7 linked regions of the Homo sapiens genome follow. The protein of the gene in region 7 purifies or fractionates together with the protein of the main gene of each other region. This does not show direct contact. Each region holds a gene or a part of one and is shown on either strand. Other genes may lie near its edges.

Region 1 (3,500 bases), on a different chromosome or scaffold from region 7:
TAGTGTCTATGACCCTCACTTATGGGAGGGCAGATCCCAGCCTGCCCCTCCCAAGGGCCCAGTGGCCCCAAGCTCATACCAGGCAGCTCTCACCCACCAGTGGTCACTGTCTTGGGCAAGCCACTCTTGCCTTCTGGGCCTCAGCTGTCTTATCTGCAAAATGGGGATCACACCTCTAACCCCCGAGGGTCAGGAAAGGTTTCAAGAATTACACAGCCCACCAGGCCTTGGCCTTTGAGGAAGGTGTTCTGGGTTCCCATTCTGACTTGGCCATCTGCTCCTAGGCAAACAGCTCCTCTCTGATGCGTCTGTGCAGTGGGGGTGACCCACCTCACAGGCATATGATAAAGGCCAAAGTGGGAGCAGGAATGCTGGGCCCCAGCCAGTCTGGGGACTCACCAGGGTCACGCAGTGTGGGAGCTAGAGGACCAGGGCTGGATTCTGGGTTGGCAGCTCCTTTACCACTGTCCCCAGGGAATCCTTCCCCACCACCAGCCTGGCCAGCCTGGGGTCCTACCCCCGCCAGGTACCTGATGCTTCTGGGGGAACCAAGAGACCATCAGGGTTACCCCCTTGCCTCCATGCAGGCCCAACACAAGCCCCTGTCATAGGAGTGGCAACCATTTTAGCAGGCATCCATGATGTGCCGGGCACTGTGCAAGGGGGGCCATGCATGTCGTCTCCAAGGGTCATATCCCTCTGACAGGCTGTGACTATCACCCCCGTTTTACAGATGGAAAAGTGGAGGCACACGGTCAAGGTCACACGGTGTGTGGCACCCCTGAGATTCAAACCTGGAAAGGTCACACATGGAGCTCAGCTGCTAAGGTCATCGCTTCCCAAGACCTCCATGAGAGAAGAGCTGGGTCACCTGGCCGTAAGGTCCAGCTGGCAAGAGGCCAGCTCAGTGTTCAGCCTCTTGGGAAAAGCAGAGTCGGGCAGGGCCACAGGAACAGCATCGTCTGCTGGGGACAGTGTGGGCTCCAATGACCAGGCCCGTCACCCATCTGAAGCCACTCGGCAGCCTTCTTGGCCGCCTGGTGCGGCTGTGACCCAGACACAGCAGCCACTGTCTACCCAGCAGCAGGGTGGGGCGCCGGGCCCGAGGCCGGCTCTGCGGCCTGTCAGGAGATTTACACCCGACTCTTAACAGCCTCGCGGAATCGCAGGCGGGTGCCGGGCCTGGGGTGGTCTGCTGTGAATCGGCCCCCTGTGAGCAGATGAAAGCCGGGTCGGTGGCTGGGCAGGGAAACGGGCTGGCCGGGGGCCAGCGGGCAGGGAGGCGAGCGGTTCCCTCCCAGGGCTGCAAGTGGGGCTTCCAGAGGCCTGGGGTTGATTAGGAGAACCCAGGAGGTCTGTGGTTAACCCCTTCCCTCCTGCTGGGCAGACTCCGCTAGCCCTGCCCCTAGCGCAGGAGACACTCCTGGGGGTTGTGGGGATCTTGGGAGCCAGGGACCTGGAGCAGCTGCCTCTCCTCAGCCCAGGAAGAAACTACAGAAACTCTAAGGCCTTCAAAGGCCCAACTGCGGGCTCAGGGTCACTTCTCCTGCCCACGCCAAACCCTCGGCAGCCACACTCTGCTGGCTGCTCACTTCAGGCCCCTGCTCAAAGGTCACCTCTTCAGGAGGCCTCCCCGCCCCATCCCTTGTTCCATCCCTTGCACGCTCCACTCCTTCTCCCAGCTTTGTTTTTCTTCATAGGACTTCCTACTACCCGAAATGACATTAATGAATCATTTGCTTATTCATCAACGATTTATGGAGCAGCTGTGAAGGGCTCCTGCCCACATTCTCAGGGTCTAGCTATACCAGGGCCTGGCAAACCAGAGCAAAGAACTCTGCCCTTGTAGAGCATAAACAACAGGGGGCCGGGTGCGGTGGCTCACGCCTGTAGTCCCAGCACTTTGGGAGGCTGAGGTGGGCGGATCACTTGAGGTCGGGAGTTCAAGACTAGCCTGGCCAACATGGTGAAACCCTGTCTCTATTAAAAATACAAAAATTAGCTGGGTGTGGTGGCGTGTGCCTGTAATCCCAGCTCCTAGGGAGGCTGAGGCAAGAGAATCTCCTGAACCTGGGAGGCGGAGGTTGCTGTGAGCCGAGATCTTGCCACTGCACTCCAGCCTGGGCAACAGAGCAAGACTCCATCTCAAAAAACAAAACAAAACAAAATGGGAGAAATGAATAACAAATGAAACAAACTATCGGACTAGATAGCACCTTAGAAGGTGGTAGTGGTAAGTGCTCGGGGTAACCTTAAAGCCAGGAAGGAAAAGGGGGAGAGGTGAGGAAGGCTGTGTGTGTGCCACTTGAAACAGGCGGGCTGCTGAGAAGTGCAGAGGCTTTAGGGTGTGAAGGAGTGTGCCATGCATCTGGGGGTGTCCGGGGAGGAGTGTTCCAGATAGAAAAAAGAGCAGTGCAAAGGCCCCCGAGGCAGGAGTGTCCCTGGCAAGTTCAAAGACCAGCCAGGATACCAGGGTGGCCAGAGCAGGATGTGGGAGGGAGGGCAGGGGGTAACGGGCACAGGCTAGGGGGGCGTGAGGGCCTTTCCCCCACCGTGGTCCATGCCAGACTTGCCAGGTGTCACCGCCCCTCCTGCTGGGATCCTGGACCTGGCTCAGCAACCTGCTTCTTAACCAGCCCCCAGTGACTCTGAGGGACACCAGCACTGAGAACCTCAGAAACCGAGGCCACACAGGCAGGAAGCCACCAAGCCAGCCTTCAAACCCAGCTGGCCACCTGGCTGCAGGCCGGGCACGCTCTGCAGGGCACCAGAGGGGAACGACCCGGCCACAGAACCCACAGCCGGCCTCAGGGATCTACAGATTCCCAGTCCTTGGCTCCCAGGACCAGCCCCTACTCCCACTTCACCCCACAGCGGGCTCAGATTTCAGAGGGTCGGAGGTGGCAAAACAGGAAAAAAGCCGGGAAAGGAAGTCCAGGAGCACAAAAGGCCTGTAACAACCTGTGAAGGTTGTGGGGGCACTTCCTGGGGCCAGGCCCCGGTAAACTCAGTCAACCTTCACAGCGACTCCCCTAGGCAGACACCAATACCATCCATTTGACAGCTGAGCACACTGAGGTGAAAAGGCCCTTCCAAGTGGCCCTCACTTCCCGCAGCCCCCGGGTCGGAGCCCCCAGGGTGTGCTGACAGTCACCTTGGGCAAAAGGTTTTGCGCCCTGGCCTCTATCCTCTCCTGGGGTTGCCCAAGAGATCAGTTACTGGGGACTTTGCACAGGGCCTGACGCAAGGGAGGGGGTTGCTCAGTGACCAGGAGCCGCTGAGCTGGTCCCTTCACTCTTACAGATGGGGACGCTGAGGACCCGAAAGGCCAAGGATTTGTCCAGGGCCAAAGACAAAGGAGTGGGGCTGCAACCCAGGGTATGGGGGGGGACCTGATCTCAGGGCCAGGATATGCCAGGGACAGGAACAGGCAGGTCCTAAGGATGGGGGACCTAGTAGACTGCCCCCCGACTCCATCTCTGCTCTGTTCTGTAAATAAA
Region 2 (2,577 bases), on a different chromosome or scaffold from region 7:
GGGCCTGCCCCATTCTCTGCTTTCCCTGTCTTTGCCTCCAGCCCTGGCTCTGGGAGAGATGAGAGGAAGGGCCAGGGTCCCCTTCTCCCTTCCCAGTGCCCTCACCTGCACTCCTCGCCCTCCAGCAGTTTGCGGTAGGTGGCGATCTCCACATCTAGGGCCAGCTTCACGTTCATCAGCTCCTGGTAGTCACGCAGCAGCCGCGCCAAGTCCTCCTTGGCCTGCTGCAGGGCCTCCTCCAGGTCATTCAACTTGTTCCTGGCATCCTTGAGGGCATGCTCCCCACGCTGCTCGGCATCTGCGATGGCATCTTGCACATTCTTACACTATGACAGAAGGACAGAGAATGGATTCTGCCTGACGGAGGCGGACAGAGAGCAGAGGTGTTCGAAGTGCAGGAAGCCAGAACCACTGGCCCTGGGAGTGTTAGGTCCCCTCTGGAGTTTAGTCGCAAACAACTGTGCTAAGACTTGCCGCTGTCTCTGGCACATCTTCTTCCCATGTCACCGTTGATGACACCCTTTGGCTTTCCCCATAGTGCCCTTTGATCCTCACATCACAGGGCCTGAATCATGATCCCATTTTACAGATGGAAATGAAAACATTTGAAATGGTCTGCTTGGCAAAGCTTCTGCTGCTGATGGAATCCACTCTCTGCCTCTACCTTTTCTATTCCAAAGCTAACGTCCAGCCCCAGGCCAGCTGCCCTCAATACTCACTGCCCCTCTATGAAACCAGTCGGCTGGTGCTCAGGGCCTGTGCTGAGCACAAACGGGAAGCTCCATCGGCAATCTGCAGCAAATCAATCAAACTAACGTTTGCTCTATTTGTTATGACTCCCTTTTCCTCATATAAACAAGTGAGCACAATTCTTTCCCTTCGATAATCCTTACTTTGGAATGTCTATTAGAGCACTCTAAGAATTGTTATAATAAGCCATAAATTATGTTAAGCTGGGGAATTTGGGATCGATACATGCTAGAGTGCAATATCTCAGTGTCTCTCATCTCTCACATGCACACTCACACACAACCACACTCTCACGCACACCCAGAGACAACCTCCCGCCCCTCGCTGGACAGGGCTGGGCCTCACCTGCTTCTTCACATGTGCGATCTCCCCCTGCAGCCTCTGGATCACGCGGTTCAGCTCGCTGATCTCTATCTTGATCTCTTTCAGGCTGTCTCCATGTCTCCCGACAGTCACCTGGAGCTCCTCATACTGATATGGGGAGAAGAGGACAGTTTGCAAGGAAGTTCCAGCCTGGCTCACATTCCAGACTGACTGGAGTGAAGGAGAGCTGGTTACTGGTCCAGGGAGGGTCAACCCAGCTAAATGTCATGGCTGCATTCATGAGAGGTAGGGACTGTCTCACATGCCCAAAAGGACTTGGTGCCATTCTCAACATCCTTTCTTGGGAATGGTGCCCAACTACCATTAAACAAAAAACCAATAACCTTACTGTACACTTTCCAGCTGGGGGTGCAACCCAGCTCATGGCAGGGAGCTGTGGCTCTTCCTACATTCCCTCTACTTGCCTTGCTGTGGTACAGGGCCTCCGCTTCTTCCTTGCTCCTCTGGGCGATCTCCTCATACTGGGCCTTGACCTCGGCGATGATGCTATCCAAGTCCAGGTTGCGGCTGTTGTCCATGGAGAGGATGACGTTGGTGTCAGTGACACTCTGATGTATCTGGGATATCTCCTACAACACACAGGAAGGTCTGGTCATGACATCCTGCCATAGCTACAGGCAGACAGGAGGCCTCTGTCTCCCAGCATAAGGGAAACGCAGACCCTCAGACTAAGCATACACTAGGTGGGATGAAAATCATGTAACCGTCTACTCCTGGGCCTCTCCCAAGGTTGTCCTGAGAATTGTAGTGAGAGGCACCTGTATTTCTGAGCCTCCTAGTTAACATTCAGCACTTAAGCCAGTTATGGTAAGTGCCCCCAGACAGAAGCTTGTCCATGGCAAATACCTTAAATGGACTTCCTGTTTCAGAAATCATCTGTGCACCCTTGGGTTGGGGAGGGGGATAGGAGACAAATGCATTTTGACCTCTGAAGTACAGTAGGCACAGGAATGGGCACAGGGCTTGTCTCTTCCCCAGGGGAAATGGACATCTGGGGAATGGAGGGAGGGGAAGCTGTCCTGGTGTTTCCTGAACCTTATTCCCATAACATCGGAGGAGAAAATTCCTCACCCACAAGACCTATGCTATGAAAGCCCCCCCAGTGGCCTGGAATGATGGCAGATTGAAGTCAGCTGGTCCATAAACCCCACTTCTGCCACTTTTTCACCAAGCAGAAAGGACTTTCATTTGGTGAGAAGGGTGGGAAGTAAGGGACTGTCCCGGAGCAGCCTCCTTACCGCATCATAGAGAACTTTCAGAAACTCAATTTCCTGGTTCAGCAGGTCCACCTTGGACTGCAACTCCACCTTTATCATGTAGGCATTGTCCACGTCCTGCAAGAAAGGTTGAGGCCTCTGGTGTATGGTTCCCTGTACAGGCCTCTTCCTCTCTCTGCCACTCCCCTCTACTCAGTCCCTGCTGGCTCCTCTCTAAAATCCCAGG
Region 3 (3,500 bases), on a different chromosome or scaffold from region 7:
GTCTGTTTGTCCTTGTCTCAGAAAATAGACACTCTGCTTATTTTGGTTATCATACTCTGCCTGCTATCACACAGAGTAAGGCTATAGGATAGGACAGAAATTTTTTTTGTTTTATTCCTATGGAAAGAATATCTTTTTTTTCCTCAAAAGTTTTGATTTTAGTGTTGATGTCAGAGCTGTTTACTTTAGGGAACATTGATTAAAGACTGTTCGGAAGAATTTGAAAATGAAGATATGGATGAAGTATGAGGGTTTTGTTTGGGATAAACTAGCACATGGATTCTCTCCTCTTTCTTATCGATGTAGAGACCATTGGGTTGTGCATTATATTTGAATCCTAAACTTCTGAATTTTCAGCCAGGGGTGGTAGTGATCTGGTAAGAGAAGAGGATTACTTTCAGGGCGTGATTATTTAACAATACATGGATAGGATGACTGGTGAATGAAAATAAAAAAGCACATCTCACAAACAAAATCCAAACAAAACACAACAAACTTATTACATATAGTTATAATTAATTTCCATATAAAAGAAGCACTTAGAAGACGCCGCCCACTTCCTTTGAAAGCTGTTCAGTGGAAAGTAATCTGATCATGACAATACTTTCTTGGGGGGCCCCTGATATTTAGTATTCTGAAATTGGATAGGAAACTGTTTTCTTATTTGCATCCTTGTTCTTAAAAGCTTTCTTTTGGATTTTAGGCAATGCAGTATGGCTTCCTTAATTTCAACTCATTTAACCTTGATGAATATGAACACTATGAAGTAAGTCTTCAAGGATCATGTTTTCAACTCTTCCTCCCCCCGCCCAGCTTTATTGAGGGGAATAATTGACAAATAAAACTTATATATACTTAAGATGTACAAAGTAATGTTTTGATATATGTATACACCATGAAATGATTACCTAATCAAGCTAATTAACATATTCATCACCTCACATAATTTAGTCTTTTGGCGTGTGTGATGAGAATACCTGAGATGTACTCTAGCAGATTTCAAGCATACAGTACACACATTAGATCTCCAGAATTTACTTATCCTCTGATGGTTTGTACTCTGACCAAAATTTCTCTGCCTGTTTTTAATTTTTCTTTTTTTAAATTGAAAAAAAAAGAGAGAGACCAAGTCTCGCTCTGTTACCTAGGCTGAAGTGCAGTGGTATACATGGCTCACTGCAGCCTTGAACTTCTGGGATTAAATGATCCTCTCTCTTCAGCCTCCCAAGTAGCTGGAATCACAGGTATGTACCACCATGCCAGGCTAATTTTTTAATTTTTATTTTTGTAGAGATGGGGTTTCACTTTGTTGCCCAGGCTAGAGTTGAACTCCTGGCCTCAAGCACTTCTCCCACCTTGGCCTCCCAAAGTGCTAGGATCACAGATGTGTGCCACTGTGCACGGCCCTGTTTTTAGCTTTCTTAATCACCCATTTCACTTACAGAAGCAATATTCTTGTTTTGTTTTAGACGTGTATAGAGTGAAAAAAAGTCAAGTCTTCATCTTCTTATCCCTATTTCTCCTGTCCCAATTCTCAGTGGGAATTTCTGCATTTGATGCACAATTCTAGAGTGAATGAGTGTGCCCCGTGTGTTCTTTATACTGTTTAGTTTAAATGTATTTTAGTATTGATGGCTGTCACACAGTGATTGAGATGCTTTTAAAACCCTTAGCATAGAATAAGATGAGATGAATAGTCATTATACACCTAATTATCTCTGGAAAATATCTTTGTTTTTGCCATAACCTTCGGTTTGTCAGGACACTTCTGGTTGCAAGTTACAGAAAGTAAACACAAATAGCTTAAATAAAAAAGGAAAAATCTGCCAGGCGCAGTGGCTCATGCCTGTAATCCTAGCACTTTGGGAGGCCTAGAGGGGCAGATTGCCTGAGCTCAGGAGTTTGAGATCAGCCTGGGCAACATGGTGAAACCTCATCTCTAAAATACAAAAAGTTAGCCAGGCGTGGTGGTGGGCGCCTGTAGTCCCAGCTACTCAGGAGGCTGAGGCAGGAGAATCACTTGAACCCGGGAGGCAGAGGTTGCCGTGAGCCAAGATCACCCCACTGCACTCCAGCCTGGGTGACAGAGCAAGATTCTGTCTCAAAAAAAAGGGAAAAATTTACTGGATTACATAAATTAAAAGTCCAGGAATAGGATTGGCTTCTAGCATGCCCCTTCAGGTGCTCAGACACTTAATCAGAAATTGGACTTGAAGTTAGTTTTATTCTCAGGCCAGCCTTCTCCAGTAGTGATAAAGATGGCCACCAGCAACTTTGACCTGCCAGTTTGGCAAAATGATCAGAAAAGTGTAATCTTAGCTCCATCAGAAGGCCCAGGAATGCCTCTCACTGGCCTGACTTACGTCATGTGCCCATCTCTGCACCAGCCTGTGTTCTTTGGCAGGGCAGGGCTAAGGAATACTCTGGCCAGCCTTAGTTCTCTGGCCATCCCAGGAGCCTGGGGCATAGGGTCAGCCCCATCAAACCAGCCGGACCAAAAAAAAATTTATTTTCTAACAGTTTTATTTTATTTTATTTTTCTTTCTTTCTTTTTTAGAGACAGGGTCTCACTCTGCTGCCCAGGCTGGAGTGCAGTGGTGCGATCTTGGCTCACTGCATTCTCTCTCCCAGGTTCAAGTGATCCTCCCACCTCAGCCTCCCAGTAACGGGGACTACAGGCACGTGCCACCATGCCCAGCTAATTTTGTAATTTTTTTGTAGAGATGGGATTTCGCCATGTTTCCCAGCCTGGTCACAAACTCCTGCACTCAAGGGATCTACCTGCCTCAGTCTCCCAAAGTGCTGGGATTACAGATGTAAGCCACGGCACCCAACCACACAAAATTTCTTAAAAACATAGGACAGGGCCAGGGAGAGATAAGCCAGGCAAAACCACAGGTGTGTTCTATGTTTTTTAACATAGTATATATATTTTAAAAAGAATAAATAATTTGATTCTACAGCTTTATCCTCCAAATAGGGAATGAGTAAGATACTGTGCTAAAGCCCTTTTCAGCCCAGAGTAGTTGTAGCCTCCTGTCTTCTTACCCTGCTGTAGTTACCTTGAGCAGACTTGCTCCCCAGCACTGGGGAGATGATTCCTCAAACAGCAGCACTTCATGTGGCAGCATCTTGAATCCTCAGAGAATTCTTTTTCACAACGTCCAAAGTAAATATTATTTCAAACTCTTACGTTTAACTGAACTGTTTTTTCAATTTCAGTTAATAATGACACTCAGTTGTTTCTGTGATGTACCAAAGATGTAAGAATACATTGTAGGATTCATTAGGGCCAACCCTGTCTTTACTTCTCTGATAGCAGTCCATTTCTAAAGTACAACGTACATTTAACTAGCACCTTAAACTTACAGAATATAGCTAAGTTATTAACACCTTTTTTGCGCTTGTCCTTAAAACATTAAACATTTGAAACAAGTTACTTTGTCTATGTAAGCAAAACTGCTAAAAACACTAGTTGGTATTTGTTCCTTTTGTAGTGA
Region 4 (3,500 bases), on a different chromosome or scaffold from region 7:
GGTGGTTGAAAGGCAATTTTTGTTTGTTTCAAACTTTATTCCCAGGCTTCTTTAGCTTAATTAGCTACAAAGAATAAATTGTGGGCTGGGCATCGTGGCTCACGCCTGTAATCCCAGCACTTTGGGAGGCCGAGGCAGGTGGATCAGGTCAGGAGTTCGAGACTATCCCGGCCAACATGGCGAAACTCTGTCTCTACTAAAAACACAAAAATTAACCAGGTGTGGTGGCTTATGCCTGTAATCCCAGCTACTTGGGAGGATGAGGCAGGAGAATTGCTTGAACCTGGGAGGTGGGGGTTGCAGCGAGCCGAGATTGTGCCACTGCACTCCAGCCTGGGTCACAGAGCAAGACTCCATCTCAAAAAGAAAAAAAAAAAAGAAGAAATTGTGTATAAGCAAAAACTGAAAAGAGCTGCAGTGTCCAACAGGAATGGGGCTTAAAATATTAGAGATCTAAATTTTATCAGATCCATAAACAATTTCAGAAAGCAGTCATAATGTAAAATAGCAGCTCCTAGTTACTTCATATTTTTTCTTCTTCAGAAGTTGACTCAATTCAGTTTGCCTCATTCTTAATAGCCTCATCAAAACTCCTTACAAGATCTAGAACTTCATCACCATCCCCTCCATTAGCAAGCAGTGCTTTTCCATCCACAGACTATTTGGGCAGAGCTTCAGTCGGTCTCCTTAAACTAGTCAGATTGTCTGCACCAAGCTGGTTTAAGATGCTGGTAGCATTTCTATCAGCTGCGTTGTCTCAGCATGGCCTGTAATGGTGAAAGTGTTCACTGCCCCAGAGAAATGCTACCAGCATTTTAGGTTGTTAAAGTGGATCTCTGGTCTTCATTTGTAAACATACTCACCCCTTCAATACCAGAGATATTGTTTACCCTTAACTTCTTAAGGAGAACTGAAGTTTTTATCATCTGCTGTAGCTGAACCACCTTCTTTCTGTTTCTTTTCCATCATTACGCAATTGTGCCTGCAATTTGGTTGTTTCTTTCATCTTGTCAGCGTGGAAAAGGGTCATGTGGAGGACTAGGGTTGGTGCTCAAGGGGTCCTGGGTAGACCAGCTGAGATTAGATGCACACATGTGCAGATGCAAGATGGCACAATTTCTGGTTTAAATGGTCATATAAAAGAGGCAGTTTCTGGCCGGGCACGGTGGCTCATGCCTGTAATCCCAGCACTTTGGGAGGCCGAGGCAGGCAGATCACGAGATCAGGAGATTGAGACCATCCTGGCTAACACGGTGAAACCCCATCTCTACTGAAAAATAGAAAAAATTAGCCGGGTGTGGTGGCGGGCACCTGTAGTCCCAGCTACTCGGGAGGCTGAGGCAGGAGAATGGTGTGAACCCAGGAGGCAGAGCTTGCAGTGAGCCAAGATTGCGCCACTGCACTCCAGACTGCGTGACAGAGCAAGACTCTGTTTAAAAAAAAAAAAAAAAAAAGAGGCAGTGTCTTTGGGAGGCTGTGATGGGAAGATAGCTTGAGCCCAGCAATTCAAGACCAGCCTGGGCAACATGGCAAAACCCTATCTCTACAAAAAGTACAAAAATTAGCTGGGTTGGTGACACATGCCTGTAGTTCCCAACTACTTGGGAGGCTGAAGCAGGAGGATCCCTTGAACCCAGGAGGTCAAGGCTGCAGTGAGCTGTGATTGAACCACTGCACTCCAACCTGGGTGACAGAGAGAGATTCCCTTTTTTTTTTTTTTAAATTAAAAAAAGAGGTTATTTTGTTCCTTGATCAACCTACAGATTCATTTTGCTCAAACATTTCATGTATAAAGATACTTCTATAAAACTTGGGCGTATATTATTATTTATGTCACTCTATGGGAAAATTTGGCTTTAGTTAAGATCCGGAATGCCAGGAACCCATCTGCCTGTACCGTGGGGTCAATAAGGAGGAAATAACTCCTAGACCTGTTTGTTGAGGAGGCTACTGAGACTGATGGGGATGTTAAAAGGTGGCCAAAAATTGGGAAGAAAGATAAGGCCTGCCTGACAGTTTGGGAGTACGGGTCTAGAGGACAAACCCCTGAGGAGGGCTTTGAAGGTAGCAGGCTCTAAATTTAATTCAGGTAGTTTTACCTATATTTCATTTGTGCATATCACATATATGCATCTTGTGATATACAGTCTCTCTTGCTAGCTACATTGGCACTGATCACATTTTTACATAGGGCTAAAACACAAAAAGAAGAATGACATGTTATTGATTAAAATGGCTGATCATACCAAGGAGAGCACATCCAGCTTTTCCACAAGCTTTAGCAATTCCAGCAACAACAGCTTCAGTTACACTGAGGTCAAGTTTTCCACAGGAAAAGTAATCAAGGAAGAAGAGGGGCTCTGCTCCTTGTGCCAGAATATCATTAACACACATTGCTACCAAATCTTGACCAATGGTATCATGTTTATTGCATAGCTGGGCAATCTATGTAAGAACAATATAAACATCCACATTAGGGAATAAGTTCAAAATTGTATCTTATCCATTTGATTAGCTGCTCTTAACACCTAAAAACAAAAGAACACGAAATTCTGACAAGCTACTTGGTCTAAAAGCATCCCCTTTTATCCTCTAAAGTACCCTTCCATCCAAATATAATCTAAATAATAATTTGTTATTAGAAATGTGCAGATATTTTAGCCATTTTACATGGTTATTTGGCATGGTCCTTTTTAGCTCATATATGTCAAGAGAAGAAAAATACATATTTGATATAAATTTCCTCATCTTTCCTAAAAGGCCTTTATTCACAAAGGTGTCTGATTACCTTTAGTTTAGTTCCAACGCCATCTGTTCCAGAGGCCAGAAGGGGATCTTTGAAACCAGCTGCTTTTAAATCAAAAAGACCAGCAAAACCTCCAAGATCAACTTTACAGCCTGTTGGAGAGGAAATTAATTACTTGCTACATTTTAATAGATTAAACATGTAATTATTTAAATGTCTACTAGTTTAAAAAAACCAGTATATTTAGCGGCCTGTGAGATGTACTTCTGGAAGAAATAGATGATTGGAACAGCTGTTCTCAGAGATGACATAATCAAATCAACTGGGAGAATGTAATCATTTAATAGATTAACATGTAACATGTTAATAGGTTAAACATGTATATACATACCACTTGTTCATAAGAATGGCTGAAACAAGAGATGCCCTTCCTGAGTATGAGAGATTGCACCATGTGCTCAAAGAATTGATTAAGAAAGTAATTAAGGCTGGGCGTGGTGGCTCACCCCTGTAATCCCAGCACTTTGGGAGGCCGAGGCGGGTGGATCACAAGGTCAGGAGATCGAGACCATCCTGGTTAACACAGTGAAACCCCGTCTCTACTAAAAATACAAAAAAATTAGCTGGGCGTGGTGGCGGGCACCTGTAGTCCCAGCTACTCGGGAGGCTGAGGCAGGAGAATGGCGTGAATGCAGGAGGCAGAGCTTGCAGCTAGCCGAAATGGCACCACTGCACTCCAGCCTGGGCGACAGAG
Region 5 (3,500 bases), on a different chromosome or scaffold from region 7:
TGTTTTGTTTTGTTTTTCCAATTATAACAATGCTGCAACAGTCTTAGATTCATCTCCTGGGGTATATATTTAAGAATCTCTCCAGCCTATCACGGTGGTGTGAGCCTTTAGTCCCAGCGACTCAGAAGGCTGAGCTGGGAAGACTGCTTGAGTCCAGGAGTTCAAGGCTATGATCATACCTGTGAATAGCTGCTGGAGTGCAATAGGAGCAAGACTCCCATCAAAAAAACACAAAAAAGAATCTCTCCAAATTAGGATATATATTTAGGAATAAAATTACTGGGTTGTTGAATATGCATATGTTCATCTTTACTAGGTAATGTCAAATCATTTTTAGTAATAAACTACTTTTGAGATATCTCACACCTGATCATGATACAAGCGTTATTTTTTATTTTTAGCACATACACCAGCTTATAATTTGTTGAATGATTTAAAAAGGTTACAACGGAAACCAGTAAAATCTGGTTACTGATCACTAGCTAACATTGTACCAGTACATCTAAATTATATTAAGTGATTAATATGCCTTAGATACAGTAAAGGCTCAACAAATTTTGTTGAACAAACAAGTAAATGTTTAATAATTCTGCAATGAGTATATTAATTATAATTTTAAAAATAAAAGTAGTAAATGACTTAGCCCTTTCTATTTCCTCAAGAAAGAACAGTAATGAACTTAGTTTGGGATCTCCAGAGCCTCTTGTTTAACCTTTGTTTATATAGCTTAAATTTTATAAAGTCTCAAAGATGTCTAATTTTACCATTCCTATCTAGATACAAGGAAAAAGATGAGATTAGGCACCATTATTATACACTCTAATTGCACCAAGTACCTTTCCTTTGTAATACTTCCCACTGCTATAATTCTGTATTAATTTAGGAGAGTATTTGAGTGATGTTTTCCTTACTATATTACAAACTCCACAAGGTAGGGGCTACGTCTGTTTTTGCTCATTATTATACTCCCAGTATCCATTATGTGCTTTTAAAGCAGGTGCTTATATGTTGAATGAATAAGCAAATGATCTTTAATTTCTAGCAGTCTTCCACTGTTGACACTCTTGTACGTTAGTCTTAGCATTAAGTTTCTTTGTATTCCTAGATGTATATCTAATAATAAAGAATCTCTGGGAGTCTCTATTGAAAGAAACTCTGTGATAAATAGAAGAATTATTTTATTATGCAAATAATTACCACCAAATTACTCCTTTATGAAATCTGGGATTTCCTAAGAACCTACATGTTTAATTTTGCTGTAAGTGAAAGAAAATGGTGAGTAGAATGAAGATACCAAAGATTTGATGTTTGGAGACGTGCTCAAATTTGTGTGCCAGCACTTCCAGTAGTGGGACTTTGTGGGAAATACTCAACTTTTCTCAGCCTCAATCTCTTCATCTGATAAATGGAGTTTATTTATTGGAGTTGTTTTGTGGATTAAATGAAATGATCCATTTATAATGCTCCTAGTATACTATCATACATTAAGCACTTGGAAAACCTTTTCCTTGCCAATCTCTTAATATAAAGAAATTCAATAAATATGTAGTTTCTGTTGCATAACATCTCCCCAGCATACCTGCTACAACTGCTTATTTTGCAATATATAAGCCACAAAAGACTCAAATGATTTACCAGCTATTTTACTACTATGGACCACTAGGAAAATTTCACACACATATACTAAAGTCAAAAAGTCCTAGAGCTTTGAAATTTTTTCTGTCCTTTTAAAATTAAAGAAATAAGAGGCAAGGGCGGGGGGAAAAAAGAAGGAAAAAAGGTATCATATTCAAGAGTTGTATCCATTTCTGACTTAAAATCAAGCTTTGCTCAGAACATCATTCCCTTATCACCAGTTCTTAAGAGCATCAGAAAAAACTTGCCATCTCGAGAATCTCACATACTGCTTCCATCCCGCTTTGCTCAATCAATTCTAAGTTCCTGACTAACAGTGTCTCTTGTGCCGGGATTGGGGGGAAGAACAGATTATTCTCTAAGGCACTACAGATTAGTAGCTGATGATGAACAGGGCTAAAATCAGCACCTCTGCCCAACTGATGGTGTGGGCCTTCCCTTAAAAGAACACCCAGTGCATTACCGCTAGAGTTCTACAAATTAAAGCCAGATGAACGAAATGCTGCTAAAAGAAAGTTATGAAGCCAAAAAGAACAACGCTCCTCTCCCTCTCCCCTAAAAAATGTTTAAGAGAAATCTGACTGATTAATGGGTTAGTCCCCAGGTGCACTAATTTAAAAGATAAATAAACCAACAGCTTAAAGTTGCAAAATTCCTTACCAGCTAGCTATTCTTAAATATAAAATATTATTTAAAATATAAACAAACCTCTATAAGTTGTACTTAGACTTAAATGTAATCACTATAAATTTTTCTCTTTTTTTTTGAGACAGAGTCTCACTCTGTCACCCAGGCTGGAGTGCAGTGGCGCGATCTCGGCTCACTGCAAGCTCCACCTCCTGGGTTCACGCCATTCTCCTGCCTCAGCCTCCTGAGTAGCTGGGACTACAGGTGCCTGCCACCATGCCCGGCTAATTTTTTTTGTATTTTTAGTAGAGAAGGAATGGTTTCACCCTGTTGGCCAGGATGGTCTCGATCTCCTGACCTCGTGATCCGCCTGCCTCAGCCCCCCAAAGTGCTGGGATTACAGGCGTGAGGCACCGCGCCCGGCCTGTAATCATTATAAATTTTTTGTTAGAGAAAGCTTATTACAAAAAATTTGTTTACTTGTTTTTGTTAAATTTTTTATACATTTTGTGTTCTTGTTTTTGTCAAAAAAGCTGTCTTTATTTTATTTTATTTGTTGGTCTTGAACTCCTTGGCTCAAGTGATCTGTCTGCCTCAGCCTCTGAAAGTGCTGGGATTACAAGCGTGAGCCACTGTGCCCAGTCAGCTGCCCTTTTTTAAAAACCATAAAATAAATGGATAATAAAGGCTTCAGACAATGTAAGAAGATACAAAGAAAAAAATCACTGTTGAAATTTCATATTATACATTATAATTGAATTTCTAGGATACTGATTTAGTTTAGATGCACGTCAGTGGTTCTTACTCTGGGCAATTTTGCCTTCTTACTCCCAATTAATGCCCCAACATTTAGCAATGTCTAGAGGGTATTTTTGGTTGTCACAAATGGAGGGGTCATCCAGTGGTTAGAAGCCAGGGATGCTACAAAACATTCTACAATGCACAGCTTCCAACAAAGTATTAGCTTGCCCCAAATGTCAATAGTGCTCAGATTAAGCAGCCCTGGTCTACATGATCATGCAGTTGGATTATTCTACTAGTCTGTATGTCTAACTCTTGTCTCTTCCTCCCTTTCCAACAGCACCAGATAAATATTCCCAAAGTGGTGCTTTTATTACATAATTCCTCTGCTCAAAAACTCTTCTGCTCATATAATGGTTATTCATTACCAATGCACATTAAATCTAAATTTCTCATTGAGTAGCCAAAATATGTTACTCTTTGAATCCATGTTAGAT
Region 6 (2,661 bases), on a different chromosome or scaffold from region 7:
TTTCCTGTAACTATAGAAAGAATTATGTATATATACATGCAGAAATATATATGTGTGTGTGTATCTGTGGATGGATATATGTATATCTCTTCCTATATATATCCATAGTGGACTTATTCAGAACATAGATATGTATTCAGCTTGTCTTCAAATACGGCCAAGCAGAAAATGTTTTATATTTTATAAATCATCTTTTGACTCTGTATTTAAATTCTATGATACTGAAAATAAAGGCATTCTGGAAAAATACTGACTGATTTTGGTGCAGAAGTTTTGAGTATCAAGTAAAAGAAGTATAGTTTTGAAAGGGAATGGCGGAGGCCTGTTTCCCTTAAGAGGTGAAGGGTCATTTCATTCTTCCCATTAGTGAACATCAGCCTTTTCAGAATAGCTAGTTTTTGGGGTTGGATCAGAAAGAATATAATCACCAAATTTGTTACTCAAGAAAGGAAGAAATCTCTTAATAGTTAGTTATACTTATGAATGTTTAGGAAACAACATGAAAGCTGAAAATTTATTTCACTAATATACATAAGAAGTTCACAACAATGAACAGACAGAAAATAGCAGTATATACAGAATTTCACTACTTACAGTACATTACAATAGAGAAAGCATTTTATAAACAGTTCAGTATTGGATTAAAATCTTTTAAGGATGGCTAATTCTATTCAGCAGGAATCTAACTTCTAGACACCCAGCAAACCCATTCCTATCAGGGTGAGAGAGGGCTTTTGCTGTTGCTATAGTGTACTGTAAAAATATTTGTTCCTTATAAATGAAGTGGACCACAGCAACTTCTAAATGAACATTATATTCAGTGTAAGTCTCATATTATTAAATTTCAGATTTTTGACTTTTTAGATCGCAATTGTTTTTAAAAAGCAATTTAAATGTAACAGTGTTTACTTTGACCATAGATGAAGTTTTATAATAAAAGTAAAACTTTTTTTTTCTGTTTGCAAAAGTATGAAGCATTAAGAAGCATGGTGCTATATATCTCTTTATCTACATTTACCCTGGCCCCTCTAGTTCTGCATCTAAACAGAACCTGTAATGTAGAAGTTATGATTATTTGAACACTTTTTGTTTTCCTTCAGCATTATACAATATAATTTAATAAGATACAAATGCATATTTAATGTTTGTTAATGAAGAAAGTTGTGTGAGGGTGGGCATATATCTAGGAAAACACTACTGGTTACTGGCTTCTCATCAATAACTACAAAGTACCACATACCTTTGTTTCAGAAACCACCCATTCTACATTAAAATCTAATTCCTTTATCATCTATGGCTCTTTGTTATTATAGAATGTCTACATAGGTATTTATTTGCCTTTCTTCCTATCAATCAGATTTATTTATTTTAAAAGCCCTTGATAAGTAGTAAAATATTTAACTGCTTTTCTTAACCATACAAGTCAGAATTAGATTTTAAAATTCTATGAAAAATTTTAGGATAACAAATCTAACTAGAGACTTAATGATTTGTGTTAGGATTCTGTGAGCCATACTTCAGCTTATTATTGTTCTCAGCAATCCCCAGATTTGATTGTCTGTTCTACCAGAGTAAGCTTAACCAGTTTTATTATCTAAAATGCTTAATAAGTGCCCCCTCCCCGCCAAGTGATGATGGAATTGAGGATTTATTCTTTAAAAATACCTATAACTCCAAGTTTCTTTGACTAGCCTCCTTAAGTTCATACTACTACTTTCAGCGTACTTGGAAAAATCACAGGAAGAACTAATCTCTTAGAAAACATATAACAAGTGACTGTTAACACAGAGCCAGATATGTTTACAAGAATTCTAGGATGTGTGTGGCTGGGGCAGCGGAGACCCAAGCAGAGGCTGGGAGGTTGGACTAGCCCTTTCCAGTGCTGCTACTCTGTAAAATGTATGTCTCAATCAGACTCACAGGCCCCCATCCCAAATACTCAAGACATCTTAACCATTTATCTTGTAAGATTTCAAGTTTGATAGTTACTTAACAGTAATTACTAAATTTTAGCCAGTTAAATTCTTGTTTGGATGTGCTCTTTTAGCTCAAAAAACAGATTTGTTTTTCTTTTTATATCCCTGAAGGACATACTCCTCAACTTTGCATGATTACTATAGTTGGCTTCTTAAGGGGAAGTGAAGAAACAAACTTCTGTATCACAATGACTTACTATGAATAATAATTGTGATCCATGACAGATACCCATAATTACACTGTATGGCTACATTCTAAAAATATACCACAATAAATACTTGGTATTTGTAGAGCTCAAAGCACTCTTTTACAGAGTTTTGGTTAGTTTGGTTTTTTCTTTTTTTTTTTTTTTTCGAGACAGGGTCTTGCTATATTGCCCAGAATGGCCTCAAACTCCTGGGCTCAAGCGATCCTCCTCCAGCCTCCCGAGTAGCTATAGTTTGGTTTTAATCAGTAAATATTTATTTAGCACTTGGACTGCTCTAGGCACTATAGGGTACAAAATTAGTTGTATTTTATCCTCTCATCCCAGCTGTGAGGTAGGTTTGCTAAAGCTGTAATACCACTAAGCAGTTTTTTCAATACTGTTCCCAAGGACAGATAATATTAGCAAATCCCAGAAGCATTTCTAAACACTTGTAGGAAAAATAAAGTCGGACTTAAAATTTTTAGTATCTTTGCCTT
Region 7 (3,500 bases):
GGGCAAAACTGGAAACAGTCCAAATGGCTGTCAGTGGATGGGTTAAATGAACTATGGTTCATCCATACAATCCAATACTATGTAGCTGCTCTGAAAAACGAGGTGAGGCCGGGCACGGTGGCTCACACCTGTAATCCCAGCACTTTGGGAGGCAGGGGGATCACTTGAGCCCAGGAGTTTTGAGACCAGCCTGGGCAACATAGCAAGATGCCGTCTCTTTTTTAAAAAATTATTTTTTAAATTAGGTGGGTCTGTAGCATATTGTTCTGCCGAAAACTCAAGATGTTGTATTGTACTATGACCTATTTCTGTAAAAAATATTAGTTTTATGCAGAGAAAACTGGAGTAATTTCCATTAAGCTTAGCTAACAGTGGTTATCTTTATAAGGGTGGGCTTGGGCAATTACAAGGTGAGTGCCGCAAGTTATATGTTGTTGAAGTATACATGAGTATAATCAAGGTTTTTGCAGAGGTTGTCCAATCTCTCTTTCTCTCTGTCTCTCTCTCTCTCTCATTCTCACTCTCTCTTTCTCTCTCTCTTTTTTTTTGAGACGGAGTCTCGCTCTGTCACCCAGGCTGGAGTGCAGTGGGGTGATCTCGCTGACTGCAACCTCCACCTCCCAGGTTCAAGCGATTCTCCTGCCTCAGCCTCCTGAATAGCTGGGACTACAGACACGTGCCACCATGCCTGGCTAATTTTTTGTATTTTTATTAGACACGGGGTTTCATCATGTTGGCCAGGATGGTCTCGATCTCCTGACCTCGTGATCCACCCACCTCAGCCTCCCAAAGTGTTGGGATTACAGGCGTGAGCCACCGTGCTCAGCCTTTCTCTCTCTTTTTAAATAGAGACAGAGTCTCACTGTGTTGCCCAGGCTGGTCTTGAACTCCTGGCATCAAGCAACCTTCCTGCCTCAGCCTCCCAAAGTGGTGGGATTACAGGCATGAGCCACCACGCCCAGCCGGAGTTGCACAGTCTTAAAAAGCAATTTTTTAAATTGTCGTATGTTCGGAAGGGAGGGTCTTATTCAAAAAGACTTGGACGCAGAGCAGTGAGTATCCGGGGAAGGGAGTTGTCTGAGGTGGTGGCTTGGTCAGAACTGCATTTTGGTGAAATCCATTGCAGGGCCCAGCCGTGGTCCAGCCTGAAGCAGGCATTCATTCCAAGGTAGAGGAGCTCCTGGAGCTCCTGCCAGGAGCCAGACCCTGTTCTCAGTGCTGGGCACCCAGACAAAGTCCCTGCCCTTGTGGACATCCTGGCAATTCCATAGATGTCTGGGAAGACTGCAGAAGCCAGAGAGAAGGGCCTTTGAAGTGGAGAGGGGCGAGCTGACCCAGACAGCCTCACATGCAGGGCAGCAGGGTGGATGGGAGGTGGAGACTGAGGCTGGGAGGCTGGGGGAGGAGGCTGGGGCAGGACCCCCGGAGGAGAGGACAGGCTGGACCAGGTGGAGCGCCGGGGAGGGAAAGGGGGTTGGTGGACAGACCCTTAGGAGGCTCAGCGTACATGCTCTGGAGCTGAAGGGCTGTGGCAGGAGGGCGAGGAGGGAGGCGGGGGCAGGAAACATCTGGCTGATGGGGGGGACAGTACGATCGCATTGAGATGAGGCCTGGGAGGAGGATGGGCTTGGAGGAGATGCCAGGGTCCATTTGGGACATAGTAGGAGTGAGAGGCTGGGGGGCACCTAGGGCAAGGTGTCCAGGAAGCCAGGGAACCCCGGATCTGAGGGCAGAGAGATGGTATCATGAGTGACGAGGCAGAGGTCATTGGCATGGATGAGACAGGTAACCCCAGGAAAGTGGAAAGAGAAAGCAGAGAGGCCCTGGACAGAGTCCCAGAGACCTGCCAGTCTGGAGCTGGGCTGAGGGGAGGCTTCGAGGAAGGAGACAGAGGTTGCTGGAGAGGTGGGCAGAGTGTCTGAGGCCTCGAGCAGGGGGCACATAGGTCCTTGAAGTGAGGGCCAAGGCTTTGCATTGGAATCATTCCCAGAGTGACTTGGGACATTATTCAGAGGCCCCCAGGGCTGCTGGGAAGGGACAGCAGGCCCACGCTCCAGGGGACCCGGGAACGAAGGGAAGACCCCAGGCTGTGATAATAACAGCAACAGCCAGCGCTTACCAAGCACTTCCCCCGCCCCTGGTGCTGCGCCCAGCACCCAAGCTCCCTTTCCAAGGTGAGGGACACCAAGACTTAGAAAATCAAAGTCACGACCAGGCACAGTGGCTCACGCCTGTAATCCCAGCACTTTGGGAGGCCGAGGCAGGAGACTTGCTTGAGCCCAGGAGTTCAAGACCACCCTGGGCAACAGAGGAAGACCTCGTCTCTACAAAGCAAACAAACAAACAAACAAAAAATGAGCCTGGCATGGTGGCACGTGCCTGTGGTCCCAGCTACTTGGGAGGCTGAGGTGGGAGGATCCCTTGAGCTTGGGAGGTTGAGGCTGCAGCAAGCTGTGACTGCACCAGTGCACTCCAGCCTGGGCAACAGAGCGAGACACTGTCTCAAAAAAGAAAAGCAAAGCAAAGCCACTCACATGAGGTCTTGCTCCTGGGGACGGGCATGGCCAGGACTCCAACCCCGGCAGCCTGTCCCAGAGCCCTGGAGCTAGCCCCAGTGCAGTCTCTCCACCACCCCGCACTTCCTCAGGCCACCTTCCTGCCACAGCCTTTTCCCCAAACCTGGTATCACCCCCTCTCCTCCCTCCCTAATCCCACCTCTCGGGCCTGGCCACTCCACCCCACCCCTTCCAGGACTCAGATTCAGACTCTGAGGGAGGAGCCGCTGGTGGAGAAGCAGACAGTGAGTATCTTCCTGGAGGGACAGGGAGCAGGGTTCTGGGGGGCGGGGGGATTTCAGGGCAGGGGTGTGGGTGATACCTCCTCAACTCCATCAGGAGTGACATCCAAAGTATGTAGCAGTGGGTTGGGTACCAGTGCCAGAGCAGGCTCCTGGAGGCCGCTGGCTGGGCCGGGCCTTGTGCCTTTAGATGTGGGGAGGCCGGGAACCCCAGGGCTGGGGCCAGGGTGCCGGAGACATCCATGCCCCTGGCTGAATGCCCGTCCTGCCGCTGTCTCTCTTCTTTCCGGTCAGTGGACTTCCTGCGGAACTTATTCTCCCAGACGCTCAGCCTGGGCAGCCAGAAGGAGCGTCTGCTGGACGAGCTGACCTTGGAAGGGGTGGCCCGGTACATGCAGAGCGAACGCTGTGAGTCCCCTGTCAGGATTGGGCCACTTTGCCTGGCTCCTGGCCCCAAGTGACCTCCCATCCCCAGCCACTTGAACCATTTATTGAAACCTTTTCTTTATAAGTAGCAAGAAACCCAGCTGGAACTGGCTTAAGCCAAAAAGGAGTGTGTTGGCTCTAATCCAGCTTGAAGCACGGCTGGGTCCAGGTGCTTCCACTTTGTTAAAAATCATAACTCTCTCTGATGCTGCTTTTCTTGTTTTGGGGTAAAGGTAACTCCTGGCAGCTGCAAATGCAGGTTCCACTAGCCTAGGAG

The links.
Region 1: the proteins of SIRT2 (region 7) and RUNX3 purify together in Homo sapiens (affinity purification with western blotting; one study listed by BioGRID). This does not show direct contact.
Region 2: the proteins of SIRT2 (region 7) and KRT2 purify together in Homo sapiens (affinity purification with mass spectrometry, with the first as the bait; one study listed by BioGRID). This does not show direct contact.
Region 3: the proteins of SIRT2 (region 7) and CDC14B purify together in Homo sapiens (co-immunoprecipitation; one study listed by IntAct). This does not show direct contact.
Region 4: the proteins of SIRT2 (region 7) and GART purify together in Homo sapiens (affinity purification with mass spectrometry; one large-scale study listed by BioGRID and IntAct). This does not show direct contact.
Region 5: the proteins of SIRT2 (region 7) and CDC27 purify together in Homo sapiens (co-immunoprecipitation; one study listed by IntAct). This does not show direct contact.
Region 6: the proteins of SIRT2 (region 7) and RAB3GAP2 purify together in Homo sapiens (affinity purification with mass spectrometry; 3 studies listed by BioGRID and IntAct, with this or other methods). This does not show direct contact.

Annotation. Positions count from the first base shown.
Region 1 is NC_000001.11:24,913,277-24,916,776, forward strand, and holds part of RUNX3 (runt-related transcription factor 3), read right to left. Parts: intron 1-3,500. UniProt on the Homo sapiens protein: Forms the heterodimeric complex core-binding factor (CBF) with CBFB.
Region 2 is NC_000012.12:52,646,635-52,649,211, forward strand, and holds part of KRT2 (keratin, type II cytoskeletal 2 epidermal), read right to left. Parts: intron 2,469-2,577; coding exon 2,373-2,468; intron 1,704-2,372; coding exon 1,539-1,703; intron 1,222-1,538; coding exon 1,096-1,221; intron 327-1,095; coding exon 106-326; intron 1-105.
Region 3 is NC_000009.12:96,536,344-96,539,843, reverse strand, and holds part of CDC14B (dual specificity protein phosphatase CDC14B), read left to right. Parts: intron 1-703; coding exon 704-766; intron 767-2,795; exon of another isoform or gene 2,796-2,898; intron 2,899-3,500.
Region 4 is NC_000021.9:33,518,118-33,521,617, forward strand, and holds part of GART (trifunctional purine biosynthetic protein adenosine-3), read right to left. Parts: intron 2,899-3,500; coding exon 2,789-2,898; intron 2,446-2,788; coding exon 2,247-2,445; intron 1-2,246. UniProt on the Homo sapiens protein: Trifunctional enzyme that catalyzes three distinct reactions as part of the 'de novo' inosine monophosphate biosynthetic pathway.
Region 5 is NC_000017.11:47,182,796-47,186,295, forward strand, and holds part of CDC27 (cell division cycle protein 27 homolog), read right to left. Parts: intron 1-3,500. UniProt on the Homo sapiens protein: Component of the anaphase promoting complex/cyclosome (APC/C), a cell cycle-regulated E3 ubiquitin ligase that controls progression through mitosis and the G1 phase of the cell cycle.
Region 6 is NC_000001.11:220,147,793-220,150,453, forward strand, and holds the end of RAB3GAP2 (rab3 GTPase-activating protein non-catalytic subunit), read right to left. Parts: 3' UTR 501-2,661; downstream 1-500. UniProt on the Homo sapiens protein: Regulatory subunit of the Rab3 GTPase-activating (Rab3GAP) complex composed of RAB3GAP1 and RAB3GAP2, which has GTPase-activating protein (GAP) activity towards various Rab3 subfamily members (RAB3A, RAB3B, RAB3C and RAB3D), RAB5A and RAB43, and guanine nucleotide exchange factor (GEF) activity towards RAB18.
Region 7 is NC_000019.10:38,893,119-38,896,618, reverse strand, and holds part of SIRT2 (NAD-dependent protein deacetylase sirtuin-2), read left to right. Parts: intron 1-2,463; exon of another isoform or gene 2,464-2,751; coding exon 2,752-2,800; intron 2,801-3,091; coding exon 3,092-3,205; intron 3,206-3,500. UniProt on the Homo sapiens protein: NAD-dependent protein deacetylase, which deacetylates internal lysines on histone and alpha-tubulin as well as many other proteins such as key transcription factors.